Homo sapiens: one gene and its partners. The protein of the gene in region 3 purifies or fractionates together with the protein of the main gene of each other region. This does not show direct contact. Each region holds a gene or a part of one and is shown on either strand. Other genes may lie near its edges. The genes, in order: PRMT2, ACKR3, MYRF, ZDHHC11, TMEM98, PCDHGA5 and OSTM1.

Region 1 (2,976 bases), on a different chromosome or scaffold from region 3:
GGGGTGAGGGGTGTGACCAGAGTCAGGGAAAAACTGGAGACCTGAGGAGCCCCCCACTTCACTGCTGGCCCCACCGTGGACAGTGGGAGTTTGAGGGAAGACAGAGCCTGAGGAACTTAGAGATGTTTCCAACGCAACCCAGTGCAGAATCATAGCGTTTTACTATTTCCCCCCAAATGTGACAGTTGTCCTCACCTTGTAACCTTCACAGAAGCGACTCCTTGGACCTGATTCTGTCTGTGTACACCACAGTTTAACAGCAGGAGCTAGATCACCAGCCTCTGCAGCTTAGGCAAGGGTGCAGGAAGGGGTTGCACAGCCGTCCTCCTGGCGGGCCGGGGAGTCGACACCACACGGGACCTTTAGTGCAGCTGTGTGTCCCCTGAGCTCCCGCATCCTCTGGGCCACCCAGGGTGAGCCGTCCACACCTCCTGGAATCTGAGTGGTCTCAGGAGCAAGCTTGTGTTTGGCATTGGCAGGATCTGTCTCACTAGCGTAACTTTGATCCCAGTGTATCCCATAGAGTCCCTTTAGATCACAGGGCTGGGGGTGTATATGTTCCCTGAGTTAGCCTGAAAAGCCAAGCTTTGTGTCCCCAGGCCCTCAGGGTGGACTGCCGGCTGTGTGGGTGCTGTTGGGGGCGAGAGCCAGTGCGAGCCTGAGTCAGCGCCCCGAGGGCCATGTGGAGACTGCCCTAGCTCAGCCTCCAGGTCACACGCACCCCTGTCTTGCAGCACCACACACTGGAAGCAGACGCTGTTCATGATGGACGACCCAGTCCCTGTCCATACAGGAGACGTGGTCACGGGTTCAGTTGTGTTGCAGAGAAACCCAGTGTGGAGAAGGCACATGTCTGTGGCTCTGAGCTGGGCTGTCACTTCCAGACAAGACCCCACATCTCAAAAAGTAAGATACGTAGTTGTAAGATTCTGTCCTGTGGGTGCCGGTCCTCAGGGAGACAGGCCTGGGTGGTGGTAGTGATGGCAGATGCTGGCCCACACTGGGGTCCACGCCTTTTGTGCAGGAGTGATTTAATCCTTACACAGAAAGCGCCTGTTGTCATTGGCTTCATTTCCCATCTGACAGCACGGGAAGTGGAGGGCTCTGGAAGGGAAGTCAGGGAAGTCATTCCCTCAGGTGACACGGTAAGTGAGGGAGAGCAGAGACCCACATCAGCCTGAGGCCCCTTGTGCCATGTCCAGAGGGTCCCCCAGATGGACAGAAGCCTGAGCTGTGCCTTGGCGCTCCCTTTACACAGGCCTCTGTGGCTTCCCAGGCAGCAGTTAGTCTAGGCGTGTCGTCTGTGATGCGTGTTCTGACTGGCAGCCTTCGGATCCGTGTGTGAATTCATGTGTAGCTCGCCCAGCTCACTTGGGCTTCCTGTCTCAGAGGCTGCTGAAAATGGAATGTTCTTCTTTGGGCTCAGGATTAATGTGGCAAAGAAAATAAAAATAAATGGTTTTCCTTCATTTTTTATATTTGTTTTGTGCTTTGCTTTGTGATAAGTTTTTGTTAAAAGTTTGTCATTTAAAAAAATTCTGCACCTGAATACTGTTCTCTTGTCCAATATTAAACCATTAGGAAATGTAGTATGTTAATCAAATGATTTATCATCTGATTGACCTGTTGTCATTTATCTTTTTCAGGTTGGAGAAAAAGTCTTCCCCATCTGGAGATGACAGTTGATGCTTTATTTGGAAAGCAGTGTGCATATCTTGAGGGGTGATGAACACAAGCAAACCAAGTTGCACCTGGCTTCTGCACACTCCTGCGAAAGTCGGTGAACATTCACTCCACATTGACCCCTCCCTAGCCTGGCAGGTGACGTCAGGGTCCTTCACAGACAAACACGCTTGGGCTCGGCAGGAGCTGCCGTGGCCACCCCCGCTGCCCAGTGTCTGCCCTCTAGAAGTAGGCTGTGTTTCCAGGTGTTCACCCGTGGTGCCCACAGTGCCGACCCGTGGCTGGGTCGGAGCTCCATGTTCCTAAGCTAGGTCTAGGTCTACACTCCTAGGACGCACGCATATCAGCCCGTGTACCCTGTGACAGTGACTGTCCCCACCTCCTATGTTAGTGGTGCCCTTACTGCCGTCGCTCATCCACTCGTGTGGGACGTAGGATTGCACAGGGCTGTGCCAGTGGCGTGTAGGGAACACTGCCCTGGCTCAGCGTGCGAGCTAAGGTGGTGATGTATGCGATGGGACTCTGCATGGGATAGTACAGTTGTGTAGACGTCTTCCAAATAAATTATGTGTTGGTCCATCGCACATGCTCAATAAATATTTTTAAATGAGTGAATGTCATTGTGTATCCTGTTTTATGCATATATGTTATTTTTTGTAATTACAGGATCATACTATATGCATTGCTTTATAAGTTTTTCTCAATATTGTGAAAAAACTTCCACATCAGTAGATACATGTCCATAATTTTTTTTTGTATTGTTTTGATTTTTATTAAATTTTATTGAAATATAGGCTGGGTGCAGTGGCTTACCTCTGTAATCCCAACACTTTGAGAGGCTGAGGTGGGATGATTCCTTGAGCTCAGGAGTTCAAGACCACCCTGGGCAACACAGCGAGATACTATCTCTACAAAAAAAATAGAAAAATTAGCTGGGCATGGTGGCGTGTGCCTGTAGTCCCAGCTACTCGGGAGGCTGAGGCGGGGGGATCACTTGAGCCCAGGAGGTTGAGGCTGCAGTGATCTAGGATTGCACTGCTGCACTCCAGCGTGGGTGACAGAGCAAGACCCTGTCTCAAAAACCCCAAAAAACAAAACTGAAATATCAAATATATATTGAAAACAGTGCTAGTCATGGGTACATAGATGATGGCATTTTATAAAGTGGACGCACATGTAACCAGCATCCAGGCCAGGACACACTACAGATTCCCCGATTCCCCTTCCACTCAGTGCCCACCCTCTCAAGGGTGATGTCCTGACTTGTAACTGTCGATTACTCTTGCCTGAATG
Region 2 (3,030 bases), on a different chromosome or scaffold from region 3:
TAAATGAAAACTCTCAATAGGAAATATTGCCCCTGGAGGTGTTTACCTTAGCAGATGAGATTTAAGGGGCTGTGCCACTGGCCCTGGAAGCACACAGGTGGTACAGATGAGGACACCAGTCCTGCACCCTGAAACTCTCCTGTCTGGACGGAGAGTTCAGACAGGTTCAGAACAGAGATGGCTCTGGCCAGCAGGAAGTAGAAGCAAGTGGCACCTTCTCTGTGCCAGCCTTCTCTCCTAGCTGGACCCTAGCAATCATCCCCCACACCAAAAACACTATTGCCTGAAAATTTTTTTAAAAACCATGCAGTGTGCTCAAATGATTTTTTCTTTTTATATCATTTCAAACAAGTTAACCTGGTAGCTTTTGCTTTACAGCAGCACTCTTTTTCTGAGCATGTTCATGCAGGTGGCCTGTGTGTGCCATATATATCCATGAATTATTATCATGTGTGCTATTCAAGTGCCAAAACACACTTTGAAAACTGAGACTTGATGCATTTTTAGGAAACAAAAATCTTTATTAAAAAAAAATAACTTACAAATTGAGAGAACTCTCTGAAATGCAACTGTTCGTTGTGTGTGCAGATTTGCAGTCCAGAACAGTTTTTTGTTTATTTTAAAATGTAACTTTACAATACTATTAATGTCACAAACTGCATTACAAAGCAGTTTTCGTTCCATATCCCGTGCCGGTACAAAACACCACACAGATATAAAACTATGGTAAATAAAACATTTCAGCCAAGACTGGCATATATTTATATATTTATATATATTTATATATATATAATTTCAAAACAGCTAACAATTAGTGTCATCCTTAGTCAAAACTGAAGTCACGCTAACCTTAAAACTACAACACTCTGAATATATGTCAGCACTATGCCTCCCAAACAATATTTAAAATATATTTAACTTTCAAATACATTTATAAGGTACACCAATAGTGAGAAAATAAAGTCTTAAAATTTAAATACAAATCACCATATAAAAAATTCAGGAAACACAGAAAATCCTATCTTACAGAAGTCCAGGCAAGCCTGTCCTCAGCTGGCTCTGACGCACAGCACTGCTGTGCGACACAGCTCTGCCTGTTGCAAAACTGTCAGCACGCACAGCCAAATGACAGCTGCGTCATCAAGAGAAAGAGAGAATGGATGCAGGGGGCACGTGCTCCCCTCTTCACTCTACTCAAGCATCAAGACCCGAAGCTACTTTGCTTTGCTCTAGAAAACCATAGGGCCCATCACCCTGTTCAAAAACAAGTAAACCCGTCCCAGAGCCTCTCCAGGGCAGATCATTTGGTGCTCTGCTCCAAGGCAGAGTACTCCGTCTCTGAGACTCTGGAGGCATCGATGAGCTTGGTGAGCCCTGTTTTGGCCGAGTACTTGAAGATGAAGGCCTTCATCAGCTCGTACCTGTAGTTGCGATTGATGAAGCTGTAGAGGACAGGGTTGACGCAGCAGTGCACCAGCGACAGGCACTGTGTGACATGCAGGGCCGTGAAGAGGGCGTGCTCCAGCCGGCAGGTGAAAGGGATGTAGTGCAGGATGGAGAAGATGTCCAGCAGCACCGCCACGTGGTAGGGCAGCCAGCAGACAAGGAAGACCACCACGTAGGAGAAGATGATCTTCCGGCTGCTGTGCTTCTCCTGGTCACTGGACGCCGAGATGGCTCTGGCCAGCAGGAAGTAGAAGACAGCGATAATGGAGAAGGGAACGGCAAAGCCCAAGACAACGGAGACCAGCTCCATGCCGATCAGCCACTCCTTGATGCTGTGCTCGGGGTAGAAGGACCGGCAGTAGGTCTCATTGTTGGACGCAGACGTGACGGTCTTCAGGTAGTAGGTGTCAGGCAGAGACACGCAGAAGGCCAGCAGCCACACCAGGATGCAGACGACACGGCGTACCATCTTCTTCCTGCTGCTGGGGGTGTTGGTGAAGTAGGTGATGGAGAGGTAGCGGTCCACGCTCATGCACGTGAGGAAGAAAATGCTGCCGAAGAGGTTGATGGAGAAGATGAGGTGTGTGACTTTGCACGTGAGCTCGCCCATGGGCCACTGGTTGTGCTGCACGAGACTGACCACCCAGACTGGGATGGTGAGGACAACCCACAGGTCGGCAATGGCCAGGTTCAAGATGTAGCAGTGCGTGTCATAGCCTGTGGTCTTGGCCTGGATATTCACCCAGACCACCACGGAGTTGGCAATCATGCCGATGACGAAGATGAAAATGTAAATGAAGGAGAGCGTGTAGAGCAGGACGCTTTTGTTGGGCATGTTGGGACACATCACCGTGTCCACCACGATGCAGTCGCTGCTGTTGCATGGCCAGCTGATGTCCGAGAAGTTCCCTGGCTCTGAGTAGTCGAAGAGATGCAGATCCATCGTTCTGAGGCGGGCAATCAAATGACCTATGAGAAAACCAAGCAAACAAAAAAGATGGAAGAGGAAAGTCACTTCATTAGGAAAAACTCAAGTTTCAGGCAAAAATGCTTTTCCAAGGCCCTGATAGGCTCAGCTGTTTGGGTTTAGCTCTGTAATGTCTTTGCAAAGAAGGGAGAAAAAAAATTCATAATAAAACTCTCCAAAACAAAATAAATCATACTCTGAATCTAAATCCATGTGGTGCTCCAAGACAGAAACTGTGTTTGCTTTCTCCATCTTTTCATGGCTGTGTTCTCAAGACACCGCCAGCATGGCTGTGCCCAGTGTGTGAAATCAACACAGTACAGGGGCCAAAGAAACGTCAGGCAGCTGAGCCCCGGCCACCGCGATGCTGATGGCCTGCTCACTCTCAGCAGGGGACAGTGGAGCCATTTTATCTAGGTCCCCAAAGAATGGCAGGGTTGTCCTCTCCTGGCACTGCTGTATTACAAGTGTCCTGCTTTGGTGTCTTAATGAAAGCATTTCAAATCCTCCTCCAAATTTGCATTTATAATGTGACTCAGCACTTTTTACTTGTCTGCTAAATTCACATATAAACCTGGGTCTCAGGCGGCCCCAGTGTGCAGTCATAAAGCCTCTGG
Region 3 (4,266 bases):
AAGCCAGTGCATCCTGCCCGGTGGGTCCCCTCTCTGCAGGCCCTGTGCCCGCCGATCTGGGCTGCCTTGCCTCTCTCTAGGGGATTAGCCGGGCGGTCACGGGGGCCCGGCTGTACCAGCCTCGAGGGGGCCGCTCTGTCCCGGCCTCCCACCTGAGGTCCAAAGCGCCTTAGCCCCCAGCCCACCACCGGCACAGGGCAGGACCCAGCACCTATGCTTGGTGTGTGCCCAGGGAGGGGGACCACGTCAGGTGAGGGGGCGCGCTGTGCTGCAGCCCCTTCGGTAAAACCCTTTCCCAGTCTCCCAGCCCAGAGCCGAGAGCACAGGGACTGCTACCCACTGTCCAGAGGGATGACCAAGGCCAAGTGGGGACCAGGATGAGAGCTCAGGTGTCCCCAGCCCCAGCCCCGAGTGTGACAGCACTCAAGAGTGACGCAGCCACGGCTCAAAAGCACAACTTCCCGCTCCCTCGCACTTCACACACTCACAAGCACACCAGGCCCTGCCACTCCCAGGCCTTCTCTCACACCTACAGTGGGTCCCCCACATGGGCCTTCCCCTCCCAAGTGGCCTGGAGACCCTAGGCCTCAGGGGCCACCCACACCTTCCCCCATCGCAGGGGCTGGGAGCTGTTTCCAGCCCAGCCCTCCTAGACGGGCAGCCTCACACCCCTCCCCTGCTCCCCACAGACATTCTTGAGTCTCCTCTTATCTCTCTGGAGGGAGTAGCGCAGCCTCCCCCCGCCAGGCCGCTGCATGGCTAAGCCGTGGCGTCAGCCCCCACCCCCCAACCCATGGTCAGGAGGGAGCCAGGGAGTCCAGGCCAGCCAGGCCCACCCCTCTGCTCTCTGTCAGGGCCCAGCGTCCTGGGGCAGGCAGTGTGGAGGTCAAGGGAGCCTGGCCTGCGGGTCCTCTGGGTACCTAGCAGGCTCAAGGCACTCCAGACAGTAACCCAAGCAAGCACGAATGTCTGGTCCCCTCTTCCCTGAAGGTCTCAAACCGCGTCAGGCCCCTCGAGAGCTCCTATGGATCAACAGTGTCTGGGGAGAGCCAGAGCCCCGGGACAGATGCAGGGCTGCCTAAGACCCTCAGATGGCCCACCTGATGCAGAGTCAACCATTCAATCTAGTCCAAGCCTGAACTCTTGGGTTCTGGGTCTGTGGGGTGTCCAGAATCCTGGAGTGGGATGACTGAGGCTTAGGGGTGCCCCTGCCTGGGCTGCTCAGCCAGCAGGTGTGAACAAGGGTTCCTGCCTCCCAAGTCACAGAGGGAGAGAAACTGAGGCACCGGAAGACCTGCTTCTCTCCTCCACAGGACTCCACAGGAATCTGGGGCTTGAAACTTGGGCCTTGGTTCCCTGCCCTGTAGCCCTGATAGGTTCACACATGAAGGGAAGGTTCTCAATGCACCAAGGAGCAGGATGTGGCCTTAGGGACTAGAGGGAGCTCGGGGCAGGGGCTGGGCTCGCTGCATTGGTAGACAGGGGCACAAAAGGGGGCCAGAGGGTCTGGCTAGATGTTCCAGGGAGGTTCTGAGAAGCGGAGTGGGCTGGGAGGCAGTCAGCCAGAACTTCCCCTCCCCCTCCCACTGCGGTCCCATCCCTCCAGAACCCAGCACCAGGAGGAGTGGTGGCCCTGCAGGAGGGGCAGGGGTCGTCCAGGAAAAGACAGGGAGTTGGTTAGATGGAGGAGCAGACCTCCAAAACCAATGTAGGGGTGGGGGCAGAAGAAGATATTATGGGGTGTATGTCAATTCCACCCCAGAGGGCTCCTTTCGGTCAAGTGGGGGTGAGGTCACTCTTTGAGGGGGCGAGGTCAGAGAGGCACAGCTCCAGGGTTGGGGGGACATAGTGCTGAGGAGCCTCAGAGGGCTGGTGGGATGCAGTTCACAGCACTAGAAGGGTCTCAGAGAGCAGAGGTGACCGGTGGCAGGGATGTCAGCTTCAAGAAGGTTCCAGCCCCAGGAGAGCATGCTAGGGAGGGGGGTCCCAGCCCCAAACAGGAGAGCAGTCACTAGGCAGCATTGTGGAAAGCAGGTGGCAGTCTCCAAGGGGATCCAGGCTCGAAAGTGGTCCTACCCTCATGGAAGCACAGTGGGGAGGTCCCAGCTCCTAGAAGTCATGGGGGATGGCGCCAACCAGAAGGGCACACAGGGGGTCTTGGTCTCTAGGCGGGGGTCACAGATTCTGGGAAGCAGGCTGGGGTCCAGCCTCAAGAGGTACGGAAGGTCCTAGAAGGCACACCGGGGGTCTGGGCCTTGAATGGGGTTGTATCCCGCTTGGGGTTCTGGGGAAGCAAAGTAGAGGGTCCCCAGACTCGGGAAGTTTGCTGGGGGCGAGAGTGTCACAATTTAGGGAAAGTTCCGGGTCCTGGAAGGCTCAAAGGAGTCCGGACCTGGAAGGGGACACAGTCCCAAGGAAGCTGCGAGTTGAGGAGCGGGGAGGGGGAGCCCAACTTCAGCGGCGGTGGGTGGTAACCGCTGGGGGACTCCCAGCCCCGGGAGCCTGTCTTGGCGGGCTGGTGCCAGCCTGAAGGAGGGTCCCAGCCAGAGGAGGCGGAAACACAGCGAGGAGCCCCAGTTCCCGGGGAGATCAGCCGGGGGTTCCCAGCGCCAGAGGGTCGCCGCCGCCAGCCCGCGGTCTCTCACCTTCGAAGAAGCGCTGCAGCGCCTCCGTCTCGTCCACCACCTCCATGTCCCGCCTGCCCGGCGCACACTCCAGCCGCGGCCCCGCTACAGCCCGGCCCGGGGGCGCGGCATCGCCGGCGCGGCCCGCGCGACAGTCCCGGCTGGGCTCCGGCTACGGTCCCGCCCGGTCCGCCGCCGCGCTTGCCCCCCGCGCGTCCCTGGCCCGGCCCCTGCCCGCCCCACGCGCCCCGCCCGCCGCGCCCAGCGCCCCCTGCCGGCCCGCGCCGCGCCCAGCCCGGCCGCGGGCACCACGCTCCCGACTCCTGCAGGCGGCGCTCAGCGCTGGGCAGTCCTAGGCTTGCGGGGCGCGGGGCCGTCCCGGGTCGGGGGACGCGAGACCGTCCCAGGCTTGAGGGGCGCGGGGCCTTCCCGGGTCGGGGTGGGGGCGAAGGGCCGCTTGGCCTCTGTGGGGTCGGGACTGGAAGGGTGTGCCCTCGCCGTCCTCGCCTTCGTCTTGCACGGGACAAGATGTCACGATTCCGAATCCAAACCTCAGAGACAGCCCCCATCCCTCTCGTTAGCCACCCACACACCCCGCTCAGCAACAATAACAACCTGCATTTAGGGAACGTGTGTTATGTGCCAGGCCACACAGGCATTATCTCATGTACTCCTCACAGGCACCTTATCAAGGAGATGCTGTTGTTACCTGCATTTTACAGATGGGGAAACTGAGGCTCAATGCATTAAGGACTGCCAGGAAGCCCTGTCCTGTGGCTGTGATGATGGAAATGTTCCCTGTGTTGTTCAGTATGGTAGTCACTGGCCACAAGTGAGCACTGGAAATGTGCCTATTGAGACTGAGGAACTGATTTTTTCATTTTGTTTAATTGTAATTAAACAGTTACGTGTGGCTGTGGTATTGGACAATGCAGGTCTAAAAGCTCCTTTTTTTTTTGAGATGGAGTTCGGCTCTGTCGCCCAGGCTGGAGTGCAATGGCGCGATCTCAGCTCACTGCAACATCTGCCTCCTCGGTTCAAGCGATTCTCCTGCCTCAGCCTCCCCAGTAACTGGGATTACAGGCGCCACCACGCTGGGCTAACTTGTATTTTTAGTAGAGACGGGGTTTCCTCATGTTGGCCAGGCTGGTCTCGAACTCCTGACCTTAGGTGATCAGCCCACGTTGGCCTCCCAAACTGCTGGGATTACAGGCATGAGCCACCGCTCCCCGCCCTGCCTAAGAGTTTCAAGGTCATTAAAGTTCAGAGCCAAATCCTGGCTGCCCCGGGAATCCGAACTCTCCTTTGCCGTGGCCCTGTCTGGTATAATGAAACCTGGAGGTTCTAACTCGATATAAGTCCAGGATAAAGCGGTTGTCCTTGTGCCCCTGCCTTCACCCTTATGACTGACTGCCTCCACATCTCTGTCCTGCCCAACTTGCACAGCCTCTCGTCTCACTGATATCCCCTTCAGTTCTCCCAAATCACCCTTTCTGAAACATACATCCGATCATGTCATTCCTTTGCAAAACTAAGTTTCCCTTTGCACTCAAAACAATATCTGAATGTCTTGCTCTGGTTTCTCAGGCCCCGCCTCTACCACTGGCCTCAGCTCTTCCCCTCTCTCCATTGCTCACTGAAT
Region 4 (3,500 bases), on a different chromosome or scaffold from region 3:
CTGTAGGCACAGGTGGGATCCAAGCCCCCGGCCTCAACTCCTGGAACCATGGGGCAGGCGCGGCCTCCTCCAGGGCCATGGCCCAGAGTGAGGCTGGTGTAGGACGGCTGGCGGGGGGTCTATGCTCAGGGCGGCCAAAGACACAGCTCCTCCTGCTCTGTGGCTACCTCTGCCCACAGCTGCCCTGCTTCTCCTCCTCCCCACAGGCCTCAACACCCTCCCCCAGCCTCCCATTCCCTGCTGGACGCCCTCTCCCCAGGCCGCACAGGGCTGGTTCCTCCGAGGCACCTGGCTTCCAGTGATGGACCTCTGGCCCTGCCCCAACCTGCGCACTTGGGGCCTGACAGGCGTTCCCCGATTCATCCCTCCAGGAACAAGAAAACCAAACACTGCATTTCCTGCAATAAGTGTGTGTCCGGCTTCGACCACCACTGCAAATGGATCAACAACTGCGTGGGAAGCCGGAATTATTGGTGAGGGGCACAGAGGGGATGGCCGGCACGGGCCAGGCTTGGGGGAATTTGGAAGGGAGGGGTCTGTGGGCAGGGGTCATCGTGTTGAAAGGGTGGAGGGTCCTCTTGGGGCCGCGTCCCTGTCCTGATGTGGTGGCGCTTGGTGCCTGCGTGCCCCGGCCTCCTGTCTGGCTCTGGGGCTGTGGTGCAGCCGTCCCTGGACAAGCTCATCCGCATAGAGTAAGTCCCTGGAGGCCCCCCGGGGGCACTTGCGGGGCCACGCTGGCTGAGGCCTCCTGACCACGCTGTCCTGGGCTGGGCTGCCTTCTCTCCACCCAGGCTGAGGCTCATCCAGCACAAGGGTGGGGCCACGGAAGGGCAGTGGGCACCCAGCGCAGATGGGCGAGAGGTGTTTCCCCTGAGCATGGTCGAGGCTCACAGATGAGAGGTGTTTCCCTGAGCACGGTGGAGGCTCATAGACGAGAGGTGTTTCCCCTGAGCACGGTGGAGATGCAAGGAAGAGAGATGTTTCCCTGAGCACGGTGGAGGCTTACAGATGAGAGGTGTTTCCACTGAGCATGGTGGAGGCTCACAGGCGAGAGGTCTTTCCCCTGAGCACGGTGGAGGCGCAAGGATGAGAGGTGTTTCCACTGAGGATGGTGGAGGTGCAAGAACGAGAGGTGTTTCCCCTGAGCACGGTGGAGGCTCACAGATGAGACGTGTTTCCCCTGAGCACGGTGGAGGCTCATAGACGAGAGGTGTTTCCCCTGAGCACGGTGGAGGCTCAAGAACGAGAGGTGTTTCCCCTGAGCATGGTGGAGGCTCAAGGACGAGAGGTGTTTCCCCTGAGCATGGTGGAGGCTCACAGGCGAGAGGTATTTCCCCTGAGCACGGTGGAGGCGCAAGGATGAGAGGTGTTTCCACTGAGGATGGTGGAGGTGCAAGAACGAGAGGTGTTTCCCCTGAGCACGGTGGAGACTCACAGATGAGACGTGTTTCCCCTGAGCACGGTGGAGGCTCAAGAACGAGAGGTTGTTTCCCCTGAGCACGGTGGAGGCTCATAGATGAGAGGTGTTTCCCCTGAGCACAGTGGAGGATCCAGGGACTCTCAAGGCCCCGTGTGCTGAGCCCCGGCTGTCTGCAGCACTGTATTGTGAAGATCACCAGGGAAAAGAACCACGCCTGCTCCCCAGCTACTCTGTGCTGACCTGAAAGAGGCCTTGGTGTGCGTGGGAGTGGGGACCAACGTTGCCTGGTGTCACAGGACGCACCGGGCGGTCCCTGCCCTGCCTCCCTGCCATCCCGTCTGGAGCACAGCATGTGTCCAGAGAGGCTGAGCAGCCCGGCAGGGACAGAGAGGTTGCATGACCGCACAGCGAGTCCAGAGGCTGCGTGAGATGGTAGGGGCCGGGGAGACCCACCGGCCTCCTCCCCTGGAGAAGAGCAGCTCCACGATGGCCAAGGTGGGGCCAGCTCCTCTGGCTCATGCTAGCCCCAGGTGCCACTTCCTTCTGGACTCATTCTGCTCTGGTGCCTCGAGCTGGCTCAATCTGGCGGGTCCTGGTGGGGAAGGTGAGGGGGTGAGGGCCCACAGGCAGGTGGCAAGGAGAGGGTCTGCCTTCCTCAGGAGGGGTGCTGGAGAGGGACCACGTGGGTGCCAAGTGTAGACACCGCCTGGGTGTGGGAAAGGGGCATCAGGAGAGCAGGGCCGGGGTCATGGGCGCCCTCAGCTCCAGGCAGCAGCCAACGCCGGCATCTGTGCCAACCTCGCTTCTGTCCCTTCATCCGCCAGAGGCGGAGAGAGCAACGGCATTGAGAGCAAGATGAGGAAAGTTGAGGAGCTGATGGCAGAGCCCCCGCGAGGGAGGCCGAGCTGATGGCGGAGCCCCCATGGGGAGGCCCAGCTGATGGCAGAGCCCCTGTGAGGGAGGCTGCATACTTCGTAGTGATAAGAGAGGAAGGGGGACGGAAAGAAGGCAGGCGGCGCTGGTGTCCTGGGAAGACTGTGAGCGCTGGCCTCGGACTCTGCAGGTTAAACACAGGCAGCAGGGGCAGGAGGCTGTGCTAACCAAGAGGAGAATGTCCCTGGGTGGCTGCGGGGAGAGGAGGCCCCGCGTGAATGGCTCTGCCCCATCCTGTGGGCTTTTGTCTCTGTGGTCTTAGAGACCCGCCTTCTTTCCTGGATGAAGAGGGGAGTCCTGTCCAGACAGTAGGATGAAGATGAGGGGTCTTTACTCCCCACAAGTGGGCTCAAGCCCAGGAGGACTGGGGGCAGGGTAGGGCGTGTCCGCTGCCTGGAGGGGCTGCTGCTTGGGAAACCTAAGCTGTGAGAGGGAAGGCAGTATGAGGGAGCAGCAGTCAGGGAGCCGCTCATGCCTGGAGCCACCCGTCACCCCTGGATTATCCAGAAGACTCTTGGAGGGAGGAGGAGCGCGGGGAAGGCAGCTGTGCCCTAACTGCCTCTTCGGAGGACTGCGGCATTCATGCTCTGGCCTCCAGTTGAAAATAGAAAAAGGGATTTAAACAAGCTTAGGTGAACATAATACAATGGAAAGGATTAAAGGAGGTTAAAGGATACTTTTAAAAAAATATCATCATGGCAGAAAGACCAAGGGAAGATGGTTTAGTCAAAGTATGTTCCAGGAACTGCTGCCCAGAATTGGTTTTTGTGGATGGATTATTCTCTGCATCTTTTGAGCAAAGACGAGAGACTGGGAGTGGATTTGGTCTCACGTCTACAGCATGGACATCGCTTTTGGCTCAGATTTGCACGAGACCCTTGGAGAAGGGGGGACTGCAGCCGAGGTGTGGCCGGGCTCCTCCAGGGCCTCCTCAGCCCGAGTTCCCTTTGGGTGCAGAGATCCAGGTCCCTGAGCCTGCAGGCCCTCCTGGGTGCCACGGCACTCTCGTGGCTCTCCCCTTCCCTGGCTTCAGTGCCTTTGCCCAGCATGGTGCCATGGAGACCCCAGCACAGACCATGCTCAGGGCCCCCCGAGTGGACCGAGCCCGCGTGCTCCTTGGCTGGTAGGGAGGCCTGTCTGCATCAGG
Region 5 (4,121 bases), on a different chromosome or scaffold from region 3:
TGGGATTACACGCGTGAGACACCGAGCCCGGCCTTAAAATAGCTTTTTAAACCCTAGACAAAAGGAAACATTTTAACTAGCAGTTGTTTTCGCAGCCATAAAAACATGCACAAAAGAACACCCATTAAAGAGAGGAAAGATGAAACTGTATTTACTGAGGATCTACTCTGCACCAGGTTCTTTGTTAACTTTTCCAACAACAATCTTATGAAGTGGACATATTAGTAATCCCATTTTACAGTTGAGGAAACTGAGGTTCAGGGAGGTTACAGAATTTTTCCAATATGCAGTCAGGAGATGGAAAGCCATCCACTTACACTGAGATGGACATTCACTCTACTTTTCCTTTCTAAGGAAGAAAGAAGACTGTAAAGGTTCTGGAAAGAGTTCTAATTGCCAGTTTCAGTGTTGGAAACTTAGAACTGGCATTAAAGTGTCCATTGCCTCTTGCCAGTTTTCACTCAGGAGACTGTTTCACATCTATTTCTTTTTCTCATAGAATTCTTTTATTTGTGTACAAAAGAAGAATGAAAGAAGTCCGTGCATTTGTATATACTAGTGCACAGAATTTTTTTAGTATGAACACATCGATAGGCACAAACACACATAAAATGTAACTTGATAACAGTAGCTGCCTCTGGAGAGAGGAACTGAAGAACGGGGTCTTTCACACCTATTTTAAACTCATAAGCCAGAAGAACAAGGGCATCTCACAGAAGTACATATTCACTGTTATTTCATTGTAGGCCTCCTGCTTGTCTCTCTTTGTGCAAGCATTCTCCCCTCTCTGGGCTTTAATTTCCCCACGTGAAAAAAAGACACTCTGACTTAGGAGTCCTTAGAATACCAGGAGGGTGCTTTTCCTCTATTTGCACTTAATTCTATCCTCCATGTCTCGGAGGGTCCAAACGCTCTCGGTCACCATTCACTAAGTATTTATTGATCATCTACTATGCATCATGCACTGGAGATTGGAGATAGATAGGACAGAGACCCTGATCTTAAGGAGTTGGTGGGAGAGGCAGACAGGTGACAAACCACTTCAACTCCATGTGCCTGTGCTTCCTGCAGAAGAACACAGAAAAGAGAGTAACTGTGCTTGCATGACACTTTCTGGGAACTGACACTTTCACAGGAGTGGTGAGGCTAGAGCTGGGTTTTGAAGGATGAGCAGGAGTTTGCCAGGTAGACAAGGTTGGGACATGCCTGGCTTAAAGTGCCAAGGAAGCCTTTCTCAAAGGGCTCACAGAGCTGCTCTCCCATCTCGAGCTCACTGGACCACAAGAAGGAGAAGGCTGGCATCTGCCTCTTCTGTGTGTGTCGCTGATTTTGTGAGAGGTAGGTGGGGGAGGGGGGTAATTCTCAGGGTCCGCCTCTGTTTCTCTACGTGTGTGTTTCTCTTTACTGTCCTTTTAACCACCTCCTTTTGGCCTTTGTGTTTTCTGCCTCCTCTTATGTCTGCCTTTATCTCTGTTTCTCTTTCCAGGCATCTTTCCCTCTGCTGCTCCCGTCTCCCGCTTCTCAGTGTCTCTCCTTCCCCTCCCCCGGTCCCCAGGCCTCCAAGACCACCCACTTGGTTTCCTCTCTCTTCCTGTGCGTTCTGAGTGTTTCTCTGATCGTGTTTCTCTGGGTGTGTGTGAGCTGAGTGTGCTTCTAAGTGTGTTTCTCCGTGTGTGTTTGTGTTAGTGTGCGTGAGCTGTTTTTCTGTTTCTGTGTGTGTGAGCTGTTTCTCAGAGTGTGCTTCTGAGTGTGTGAGCTGTGTTTCTCAGAGTGTGTTTCTGAGTGTTAGCTATGTTTCTGAGTGTTTTCTGAATGTGCTTGTGTGAGCTGTTTATCTTGAGTGTGCTTGAGTGGGTGTGAGCTGATTGTGTTTCTCAGAGTATGTTTCTGAGTGTGTGTGAGCTGAATGTTTCTCCGAGTGTGCTTGTGTGTGTGAGCTGAGTGTGCTTCTGAGCGAGTGTGAACTGTTTCTCGGAGTGTGTTTCTGAGTGTGTGTGAACTGAATGTTTGAGTGTGCTTCTGTGTGTGAGCTGAGTGTTTATCTTGTGTGCCTCTGAGTGCGTGTGTTTCTGAGTGTGTGTGAACTGAATGTTTCTGAGTGTGCTTCTGTGTGTGAGCTGAGTGTTTATCTTGTGTGCTTCTGAGTGCGTGTGTTTCTGAGTGTGTGTGAACTGAATGTTTCTTAGTGTGCTTGTGTGTGTGACCTGAGTGTTTATCTTAAGTGTGCTTCTCAGTGCGTGTGAGCTGAGTGTGTTTCTCGGAGCGTGTGTTCGTGGTCCTTCTCTGCAGTCTGCGTGGCGTTTCTTTGTGTTTTTCTTTCTCTATTCTTCCCTGCGTACTGAAGAGTAAGTTTTCCTGTTTTTCTCCGTCTCTTTCTCTCTCCCTTACTTTCCCCCTTCCCCTCCGGTTCCAGAACCACAAGGACAGAACAGACCCAAGACCCTACCCGCTTCCCCGTGCTCGTCCACCCAGGACGCCCACTCTGTCCCCGGGAGGGAGGGACCCCCAGCCCGCCCGGGACGCGCCGCACGGGCCCCGGAGCGCTCCGGGGCGCGGCTCCTACTCCTTTCCCCAACTTCGGGCGCGCGGCCCCGCGGCAAGAACAAAGCTGCGGCACCCGCCTCCCCTCTCCCCGGCAGCCGGGCCAGGCCCCGCGCCCCCGCGTCCCCTTCCCCGACTCGCCGCGGCCCGCCCGGCCCGGCGGGGCTCACCCACCTCAGGCTGTGGCTCCCGGGCGCATCCCGCGACTGCCCCGCCGATGGCAAAGTCCGGGCGCGGGCGCGGGCCTGCAGCGGAGCATGCCGGGAAGCGCCGCGGCCCTAGGAATCCAGCCTCGCGCCCCCGCGCCCCGGCCCCCGGCCCCCGGCCCGCGCCAAATCCCCGCCGCCAGGCGCCGCCGTCACCGCCAGGCCCCCCGGCGGCCGGGGCAGCTGGGAGGCGGGCCCTGGCGACCCAACACCCCTTCCTCGCGCCCCCGCGGTGGCCCGTCCGGGCGGCAGACGGAGAGGGGAGCGGAGGGTCCCTGCCTGCGCCCCGCCCCGGGCTGGCGGTCCCAGGCGGCGAGCGCGGATGGGTACCGCAGGGGGGCTGGCGGCGGAGCCAGTGTGCTCCGCCACGGACTGTCCCATTGAAACCCTGCCTCTGCCACTCACTAGCTATGGACAACTTAGTTCAGCCTTTGTGCCTCGGTCTGTAAAACGGGGCTGCTGCTTGTCAGCATCCTCAGAGTTGGTATTAGGAATGATGGGATGCAGGATGCATCGGACTGCCTGGCCCAGGGTAAAGAGTGAATCGAGGGTCGCTCTTATTTACAGCCTGACCCACGGGTCAGTGAGAAGCAGGCCCACCCCTGGCGACTGCCTAGCCAGGGGCAAGAGTACAAATGCAGAGCCCTTGCTAGTAGTCTTGCTGCTTCTATTCCCACACGACTCCATCCCATACATACTGAAGGGGGTCTACTGGTTCAGGCAAACACACACCCCCTACCCTGCCATCCTTCATTCTAACGATACTCAGGCCAGGCAGGGCAGGCTGCCCTGGGTGGATGGAAGTCAGACCTTGGAAGCAGGCTCAGGGCTGTTTACACAGGGATTTCCGGAGTCCAGGGTACCAGGAGCATGATCTAGAAGGGAACATACGCTCCAGCTGGAGTGGGCCAACTAAAGCACGGGGTTCAGGGCAGGATCCCAGTGGTCCAGGTCTGAGGTCAGTATCGGTGACAGTTAACAAAGGATACAGATTGGGTCCTAGGCCGCTTGACACAGGGTCTGCAAACTGGTACCCCCAAGGCCACATCCAGCCCACAGAGGTGGTTTTTTTGGTTCATACTTTTGTTGTTTTATTTTAATTTTTTTGAGACAGAGTCTCAGTCAGTCGCCCAGGCTGGAGTGCTGTGGCACAGTCTTGGCTGTTTACGGGTGGAGGGTGTCCAGGTTCTTGCCTTTATTTATTTATTTATTTATTTATTTATTTATTTTTTGAAACAGAGTCTGGCTCTGTTGCCCAGGCTGGAGTGCAATGGCACGATCTCAGCTCACTGCAACCTCTGCCTCCTGGGTTCAAGCGATTCTCCTGCCTCAGCCCCCCAAGTAGCTGGGATTACAGGTGTGCGCCACCACGTC
Region 6 (3,500 bases), on a different chromosome or scaffold from region 3:
ACGGTCGCTCACAAGTAAGTTCCCATTTTCGGGGCTCACGGTAAAGAATTTCTTCTCTGCAATAACCCGCAGGTTCCTAGTAGGTAAATCCCCCACGCCAAACCCCAGGTCCTTGGCGAGGTTCCCTACCAGCGAGCCCCTGTCCAGCTCCTCGGGAATAGCGTAGCGGATCGGTTCGGAGAGAGCCTGGTCTAACAAAGAGAGCAGGAAGAGAAATAGCATTCGCCTCTGCCCTGCTGGGCCCCTCCATCCGGAGCTATTTCCCATCCCGCTCTCTGCGCCTTTGCCTTTCTAAATCCGAGGAGAGGAGATCTTTAAATAATCCCAAGAGTTCTCCGAGCAGGACCAACTATTTGCTTTGTCTTTGTGCTTGGGTTCTCTAATGGGTGTCTCCGCTGCAGGAAGCCTGATAGAGAGTGCACTTTTCTTCCGAGCTGGCTGCAGCGGGAGGAGCCAATATTTTGCACAGCACTAGCCAAGAGCGGCACCCGGCGCCTCTGCTGCAGAACTGCAGTAATGGTGACTAAATCAGCTCCAAATAAGGAGCTAGTTAGGAGAAAAATCGGCAGTGTACTGATAGTGATACTTTCTTCCCATTTTAAAAGGACTTTTAAAAAACATTAAATATACTTACTATATCTTTAGTCTGTTATTTCTTTTAATTTGAGCTTTATCCATCCAAATCAAGTACCTTTTACTTGTCAAAGGGCAGAGATAATCTTGCTCAATCCCGTCACGTTTTTAGTTTCCATTTTCATAAAATGGTCATAATAATATCTTCTCTGCTTACTCTAGTAGAAATGAGGGCCAAATAAAATAATACATAGAAAATCATACAAATGGAAGCTATTTTTGGTGATGGCAGAAGACGTAGTATAAAGAGGCTTGAAATATCAGCTTCACGTGTATTCTTATTGCATTCTATTTCCTTTACTTCTAACTTCTAAAAGTTATAATGTCATAGCTTTTAGTTTTATTCTATGTTTCACTTTCTTCTCTTTTATCTTTATTATCTCCCCCCAAAAGAAGTTAAAGGTAATGAGGAAATGATTGACCTTATAAAATAGAAGTATAGTAAAAAGCAAGAGGGTCTCTTTTCCTTTGTTTCCAAGTGTCTACTTTTAATTAAATAAGTATGATTGAAAACTTTTTTTTTCTATAGAGGTGGGGTTTCACTATGTTGCCCAGGCTGGGCTAGAACACCTGGCTTTAAGCAATCCTCCCACCTCAGCGTCCCAAATTGCTGGGATTATAGTCATGAACCACCCTGGCCCAAATGAAAAACTTTTACAAAGGATGTTTTTTCATACTACATCACAATTGTCCTGAAATGTACTGTTTCTTCTCAAGTAGCCTAACAATGATGCGTTATTAGGATTGGGGAGTGAATTGTAAGTCCTTATAATTATATTATTTAATTATATAAGTAATCTTCCTGTCCACTTTTCCTTGGTCCCCAGTTTACCATCTGATAATCCTAACTTTTTGTTATTTACACTTTTCCCTGGTCAATAACATGCCATTTTCCATGTTTCTGACAGGTGTCTTACAGTTTTAATTCCATTTTCAAACCAGAAAATCTTCCTAAAGAAATTATCTTTAGCCTACATAATGTATTGTTACTCTAAAACTAGGCAAGTGTGCAGCAATAAGCAATGAGTTCCACACCGAATTCACCTTATAGTGGAAAAGCATTATAGCATCTTAAACTACTCACAGTAACCAGAATTCTAGACAGACACTCATTGTCACCTTTATACAAACATCAAAAATATAACTGACTCAAGACTTTGCTCCAAAACATTCCAAAGCAAGTGCCTTCCAACACAATGCCAAGTGTTCATTGTATGAACACTTCAATTAGTATGAAAAATTATTCTTCAGAACACATATAAAACTAAAGATTCAGATATTTAAAAGTATATGGTATATACAGTACATACATTCAAAATGTATGGATCAAGCATTTTATAGTCTGTTAGTAGTTTATAGAGGGTTTAAAGATATTTTTCCATTGCACAAAACATTTAACTCAGAAGAAATGTACCCAAATCTATAACCTTTACTTTTTTCCCAAACACCTTACCCTAAGAAGCATATAACATTTTCTTTTAAAAAAAATGGAAAAGCAAGTTTTCACATAGGAGTGAATAATGTCGACACCTACTGTATAGATTCTCTTGTTACTCTTTGGATGCATTCACTATTCGGTGAGTTTGTACATTTTACATTTTGGTCAGAATGTCCATGTGTGTATGTATGTGTGTTTGTGTGTGTGTATGTGTGTATATATATGTGTGTATATATATGTGTGTGTATATGTATATAGATATAGATATACTTGAATGCTCTTTAACAGTGTTTAAAAAATAAAAATCAAGTGGTCTTAGGTTCTTTAATGTGTCAATTAACCTTTCATGTGGTTGAGTAATGTAGCTTACTATCCCATTTGTAATATTTTATTACCTTTTCCCCTTATTTAGTCATTATTTGAAGCTGATGCTCAAGGTTTTAAAAGTACAAAATTTGAAGGATTAAGAATATTTTAATAAGAAACATCTGAAAATCATCTTCAGCAAATCAGATGCAGAAGGGAAATATAGTAGTTCTTTCATTACATAACACATCCTCCTGGAATTTGAGGCACATAGGCCAGTATTTCATTAAGACAAATCTATTAATTTAAGATGAGCACATACGTTAGATATGAAATTTAAAATTTTGAACCATCTTTAAGTTGAGTTCTTTTTTTTTCAAATACAACCTTAAACTCAAGTAATAAAGAAGAATTGCACCTACACTTAAAGAAACGCTAACATTGCAGTAGGTATTGATTCTAATAAGTAAAGGGTTTATCTATAACAGAAGATGCCAGGTGTGTGACATATTTACATTTATTGAGTGCAGCAGTATGTAACTCTCTGGAGGCTTTACATCACAGAACGAAGCCCAACCTTAAGGTTCCTTTACACTGATTTCTTCTCTCAACAAGCCCACATATCCAATAACTACATGGCTTAACACAAACTTTCCAGACTTTAGAATGCTACATGTTATCATTAATATAAATTTTATCTACTTTTCTGATATTTATTTATTTATTTATTTATTTATTTATTTATTTTGAGACGGAGTCTCGTTCTGTCTCCCAGGCTGGAGTGCAGTGGCGCGATCTCGGCTTACTGCAAGCTCCTCCTCCCGGGTTCACCCCATTCTCCTGCCTCAGCCTTCCGAGTAGCTGGGACTACAGGCGCCTGCCACCACGCCCGGCTAATTTTTTGTATTTTTAGTAGAACAGGGTTTCACCGTGTTAGCCAGGATGGTCTCGATCTCCTGACCTCGTGATCCGCCCACCTCAGCCTCCCAAAGTGCTGGGATTACAGGCGTCAGCCACCGCACCCGGCCTCTTTTCTGATATTTATGACCCAGAAGTTCTCTGTACCTTTCCACTGATTTATGTAAATACTGTAAATTATTTCCTTAAACAAATTTCAGGTAGA
Region 7 (3,500 bases), on a different chromosome or scaffold from region 3:
GGTGAGATAATGATTGTGAAAACATTGATTGAGGTGTGTGATTGTTTAATTAAAACACAATGGTTTTCAATCTGACTTACGTAGGTATTTTGCAGTGTAGTATGATTCTGTCTATAGGAAGTTTATTCTTTGCCTGAAATTTGCTTAAGTATGTTTTACCTACCTTAAAAAGCACTGTTTAGTAAGATAACTTTGAGTATTGAATTATGATAATAAAAGGTAGCTTTAAGAATCTTAACCTTGTAGATTATTGCCATCTCTATCTCTGACTCTTGAATTTTGGTATTGGAACTTGCCCGGTCGTGGTGAAGGACGAGGTTGGAACTCTGGTTAAAATGTAGTTTTGAAACTTACATAACAAGTAAGTAATCCCCATAGTAGATGTACACATGCTTAGGGTATAAGCATGTATGATTTCTTCTGTAATAAATGTGGTAACACTGAATTATGAATTTCCTTGAGAATAATAAAAATTGGGCCAGGTGCAGTATCTCATGCCTATAATCCCAGCACCTTGGGAGGCCAAGGCAGGCAGGTCACTTGAGGTCAGGAGTTCGAGATCAACCTGGCCAATATGGTGAAACCCTGTCTCTACTAAAAATACAAAACTTAGCCAGGCTTGGTGGTGCACGCCTGTAGTGAAGTAGAGGTTGCAGTGAGTTGAGATCGTGCCATTGCACTCCAGCCTGGGCGTTGCAGAGAGACTCTGTCTCAAAAAAATAAAATAAAAAAAATTAGGTGAACATTTCTCAGAATTTGTTCTGCAGCATGTTAATAGATGTCCTATCAGAAAGGGTTTAGTATTCCATTAAGGTTGGGAAATGCTTTACTACAGGACTTCAGAGCCTTTAGTGGACTGATGTGTGTTGTAACACTCAAATAGCAATTTTTCTATAAAGTCATCCCTTTTATATATGGCTTCACTTTCCACAGTTTCAGTTACCTGTGGCCAACTGCAGTCCAAAAATATTAAATGGAAAATTCTGGAAATAATAAGTTTTAAATTGTACACCATAAACAGTCTTCTTTTCATTTAACTTAGAGTACTTGTATGAGTTTGGTAGATTTCTAGAAGTAGAATTACTATATTGGCAGCCTAAGAAAAAGACACTAGAGAAAATTATCTCCAAATATGATGAGTTTATTAGGGAATAAGAAAGAAGTATGGTAATTTGGAATGCACTGGCAAACCACCAGTACATCCAGTGAGGGAAGGGTAAAGGGAAGCTTTTATTAGCAAAAAGGGAGAGGTTCACACAAGCTGCTTGGAAACTGAGTTCATTGGTTCCTGAGGCTCAAAGCCAAGTTGTCAGTTCATTGGTGGCGATGCCATTACTGGGCAAGTGTTCTTTTGAGTGCATCTTATCTGAATTACTGCAGTCCTAAAGAATGGCAGTGATAAACCATGTGAAAGCAGGAGTTGCAATGAAGGGCGTGAAAGGATTTCTTGTGGGGTTTTTAGAAAGTCTTTGGAAACAAGGACTCTTTTTGTCTCTATTTTGTCTTGGTCTGTCAAAAGGTGATTTCATCCTAATGTCTGCAACTTTCACATTATTAAAAGATATGTGCATTTTAAATTTGAATAAAAATTGTGGCCAGGTATGGTGGCACCTGCCTGTAATCCCAGCACTTTGGAAGGTTGAGGTGGGAGGATCATTTGAGCCCAGGAGTTAGAAATTAGCCTGGGCAAAATAGCAAGACCGTGTCTCAAAAAAAAAAAAAAAAAAAAAGGTTAAATTACTCCCCATCTAGATTATGTGCACAATTTTAGTTAAATGGATTATGTGCTCAATTTTTTTTTTTTTTTTTGAGACGGAGTCTCGCTCTGTCACCCGGGCTAGAGTGCAGTGGCGCGATCTCGGCTCACTGCAAGCTCCGCCTCCCGGGTTCACGCCATTCTCCTGCCTCAGCCTCCCAAGTAGCTGGGACTACAGGTGCCCGCCACCACGCCCGGCTAAGTTTTGTATTTTTAGTAGAGATGGGGTTTCACCGTGTTAGCCAGGATGGTCTCGATCTCCTGACCTTGTGATCCGCCCACCTCGGCCTCCCAAAGTGCTGGGTTTACAGGTGTGAACCATCGCGCCCAGCCCTGTGCTCAATTTTTAACTAAGTGCACAATTGTTCTGTGAAAAACAAGCAATGGGCTATTTCTTGTAGCAGACTAAGGAGAGACTTAGTTTTTCTGTCAAGCAGATGGTGAGGGTAACATTGTTGGGCCAACATCAGTGTAATTACTTTGATTTTTCTCTTTTCTCTTTCATCCCAATGTTCAGTTAATATTCTTTCTTCATACTACAAAGTAAAGAATAAAGGGCATAGAAAGCAAAGGTGTGAACTGACTGTTTAGCAAACTTATTCTTGAAAAGACAAGTGTCAGTCTAGAAGTACAAAATATTGAGATTTAGTAGCATAATATTTTATGTACCTCCACTATCCTCATTTTAGGTTATACAATTCTTTGGTATTTGGCCCTTTTTGTTGACTAGAAAGGCCTGGATTATGAGCCTTGTGATAAGAGAGTTGAGTGGGGATGCAGTTTTGGTGCCTTTTCCCTTTCCATTTAAAAAGTTCTGTCTCAGTAAGATAAACTATGGTGTTCAAGTCAGCATAGGCAGGAACCTATTTTATTTATTCAGTGAGAGTAGGATAGATAAGTGAGGGTTTGTGATGATGAGATAATTTAGGAAATTTTGTATTTAGTTACTAGTCATTTGGCATATGAATTATTGTTATCCTCAGTTAACATTAGCTAATGCAGCAGTTTTGAAAATTTAGAGGCACCTAGAAAGTTCCAAACAGTTTGCCATCTGCTTCACATACCGGGTCTCTAATCCTTCGGACTTATAATACAGGTAGAGGTCGTTTTATTTTATAGATGATAAAACTGAGACTCAGAGTGATTTAGTAACCTACTCAACATCACAGCTTAGCACTTTAACACACCATATTGTTTCCCGTCTTCTAGAAGCGTAAATAGCTTACATTAAAGAGATATTGTATATAATGTTTATTGTATATATTACATGTGCCTTTGTCATTTTAGGGGAATGCACATAGTCTTTTACAGACAAAAAATTATTCAGAAGTATGCAAAAACTGCCGTGAAGCATACAAAACTCTGAGTAGTCTGTACAGTGAAATGCAAAAAATGAATGAACTTGAGAATAAGGCTGAACCTGGAACACATTTATGCATTGATGTGGAAGATGCAGTAAGTACTTTGCTTCTGATGTGATACATATTTTAGAGTGTTATTGAATGTACCTTCAGTATGATTATTATTTTTGGTGATAGGGTGGAATCTGCATATTCTGTCCTCAACCAAAAATAACTAGTTATAAAGTAGTAAAGTTTTAGAATATCCTGGTCTGTTAAACCAAAATGGATATTTCCTTAGTAGTCTCATGGTTAGGATAAAAATAAAACAGAAATTAATTAGGTACTTCATAAGTGAGTTGATGCTTTGGTACATTTTAATCTTTTTAAATTTGAAAATATGT

What was found.
Region 1: the proteins of MYRF (region 3) and PRMT2 purify together in Homo sapiens (co-immunoprecipitation; one large-scale study listed by IntAct). This does not show direct contact.
Region 2: the proteins of MYRF (region 3) and ACKR3 purify together in Homo sapiens (co-immunoprecipitation; one large-scale study listed by IntAct). This does not show direct contact.
Region 4: the proteins of MYRF (region 3) and ZDHHC11 purify together in Homo sapiens (co-immunoprecipitation; one large-scale study listed by IntAct). This does not show direct contact.
Region 5: the proteins of MYRF (region 3) and TMEM98 purify together in Homo sapiens (co-immunoprecipitation; one large-scale study listed by IntAct). This does not show direct contact.
Region 6: the proteins of MYRF (region 3) and PCDHGA5 purify together in Homo sapiens (co-immunoprecipitation; one large-scale study listed by IntAct). This does not show direct contact.
Region 7: the proteins of MYRF (region 3) and OSTM1 purify together in Homo sapiens (co-immunoprecipitation; one large-scale study listed by IntAct). This does not show direct contact.

What each region holds. Positions count from the first base shown.
Region 1 is NC_000021.9:46,662,649-46,665,624, forward strand, and holds the end of PRMT2 (protein arginine N-methyltransferase 2), read left to right. Parts: intron 1-734; coding exon 735-906; intron 907-1,646; coding exon 1,647-1,679; coding exon of another isoform or gene 1,680-1,726; 3' UTR 1,727-2,476; downstream 2,477-2,976. UniProt on the Homo sapiens protein: Arginine methyltransferase that methylates the guanidino nitrogens of arginyl residues in proteins such as STAT3, FBL, histone H4. Acts as a coactivator (with NCOA2) of the androgen receptor (AR)-mediated transactivation.
Region 2 is NC_000002.12:236,579,825-236,582,854, reverse strand, and holds the end of ACKR3 (atypical chemokine receptor 3), read right to left. Parts: intron 2,416-3,030; 5' UTR 2,390-2,415; coding exon 1,301-2,389; 3' UTR 501-1,300; downstream 1-500. UniProt on the Homo sapiens protein: Atypical chemokine receptor that controls chemokine levels and localization via high-affinity chemokine binding that is uncoupled from classic ligand-driven signal transduction cascades, resulting instead in chemokine sequestration, degradation, or transcytosis.
Region 3 is NC_000011.10:61,751,170-61,755,435, reverse strand, and holds the start of MYRF (myelin regulatory factor isoform 2 precursor), read right to left. Parts: upstream 2,801-4,266; 5' UTR 2,692-2,800; coding exon 2,646-2,691; intron 2,568-2,645; exon of another isoform or gene 2,077-2,567; intron 1,408-2,076; exon of another isoform or gene 991-1,407; intron 59-990; exon of another isoform or gene 13-58; coding exon of another isoform or gene 1-12.
Region 4 is NC_000005.10:844,487-847,986, reverse strand, and holds part of ZDHHC11 (palmitoyltransferase ZDHHC11), read left to right. Parts: intron 1-206; coding exon of another isoform or gene 207-371; coding exon 372-473; intron 474-3,500. UniProt on the Homo sapiens protein: Endoplasmic reticulum-localized palmitoyltransferase that could catalyze the addition of palmitate onto various protein substrates and be involved in a variety of cellular processes.
Region 5 is NC_000017.11:32,926,832-32,930,952, reverse strand, and holds the start of TMEM98 (transmembrane protein 98), read right to left. Parts: upstream 2,801-4,121; 5' UTR 2,716-2,800; intron 54-2,715; exon of another isoform or gene 1-53. UniProt on the Homo sapiens protein: Functions as a negative regulator of MYRF in oligodendrocyte differentiation and myelination. Interacts with the C-terminal of MYRF inhibiting MYRF self-cleavage and N-fragment nuclear translocation.
Region 6 is NC_000005.10:141,367,162-141,370,661, reverse strand, and holds part of PCDHGA5 (protocadherin gamma-A5 isoform 1 precursor), read right to left. Parts: exon of another isoform or gene 2,879-3,500; intron 421-2,878; exon of another isoform or gene 268-420; coding exon of another isoform or gene 1-267. Other genes in the region: PCDHGB3 (protocadherin gamma-B3 isoform 1 precursor), read right to left, coding at 1-267. UniProt on the Homo sapiens protein: Potential calcium-dependent cell-adhesion protein. May be involved in the establishment and maintenance of specific neuronal connections in the brain.
Region 7 is NC_000006.12:108,050,742-108,054,241, reverse strand, and holds part of OSTM1 (osteopetrosis-associated transmembrane protein 1 precursor), read left to right. Parts: intron 1-3,043; coding exon 3,044-3,211; intron 3,212-3,500. UniProt on the Homo sapiens protein: Required for osteoclast and melanocyte maturation and function.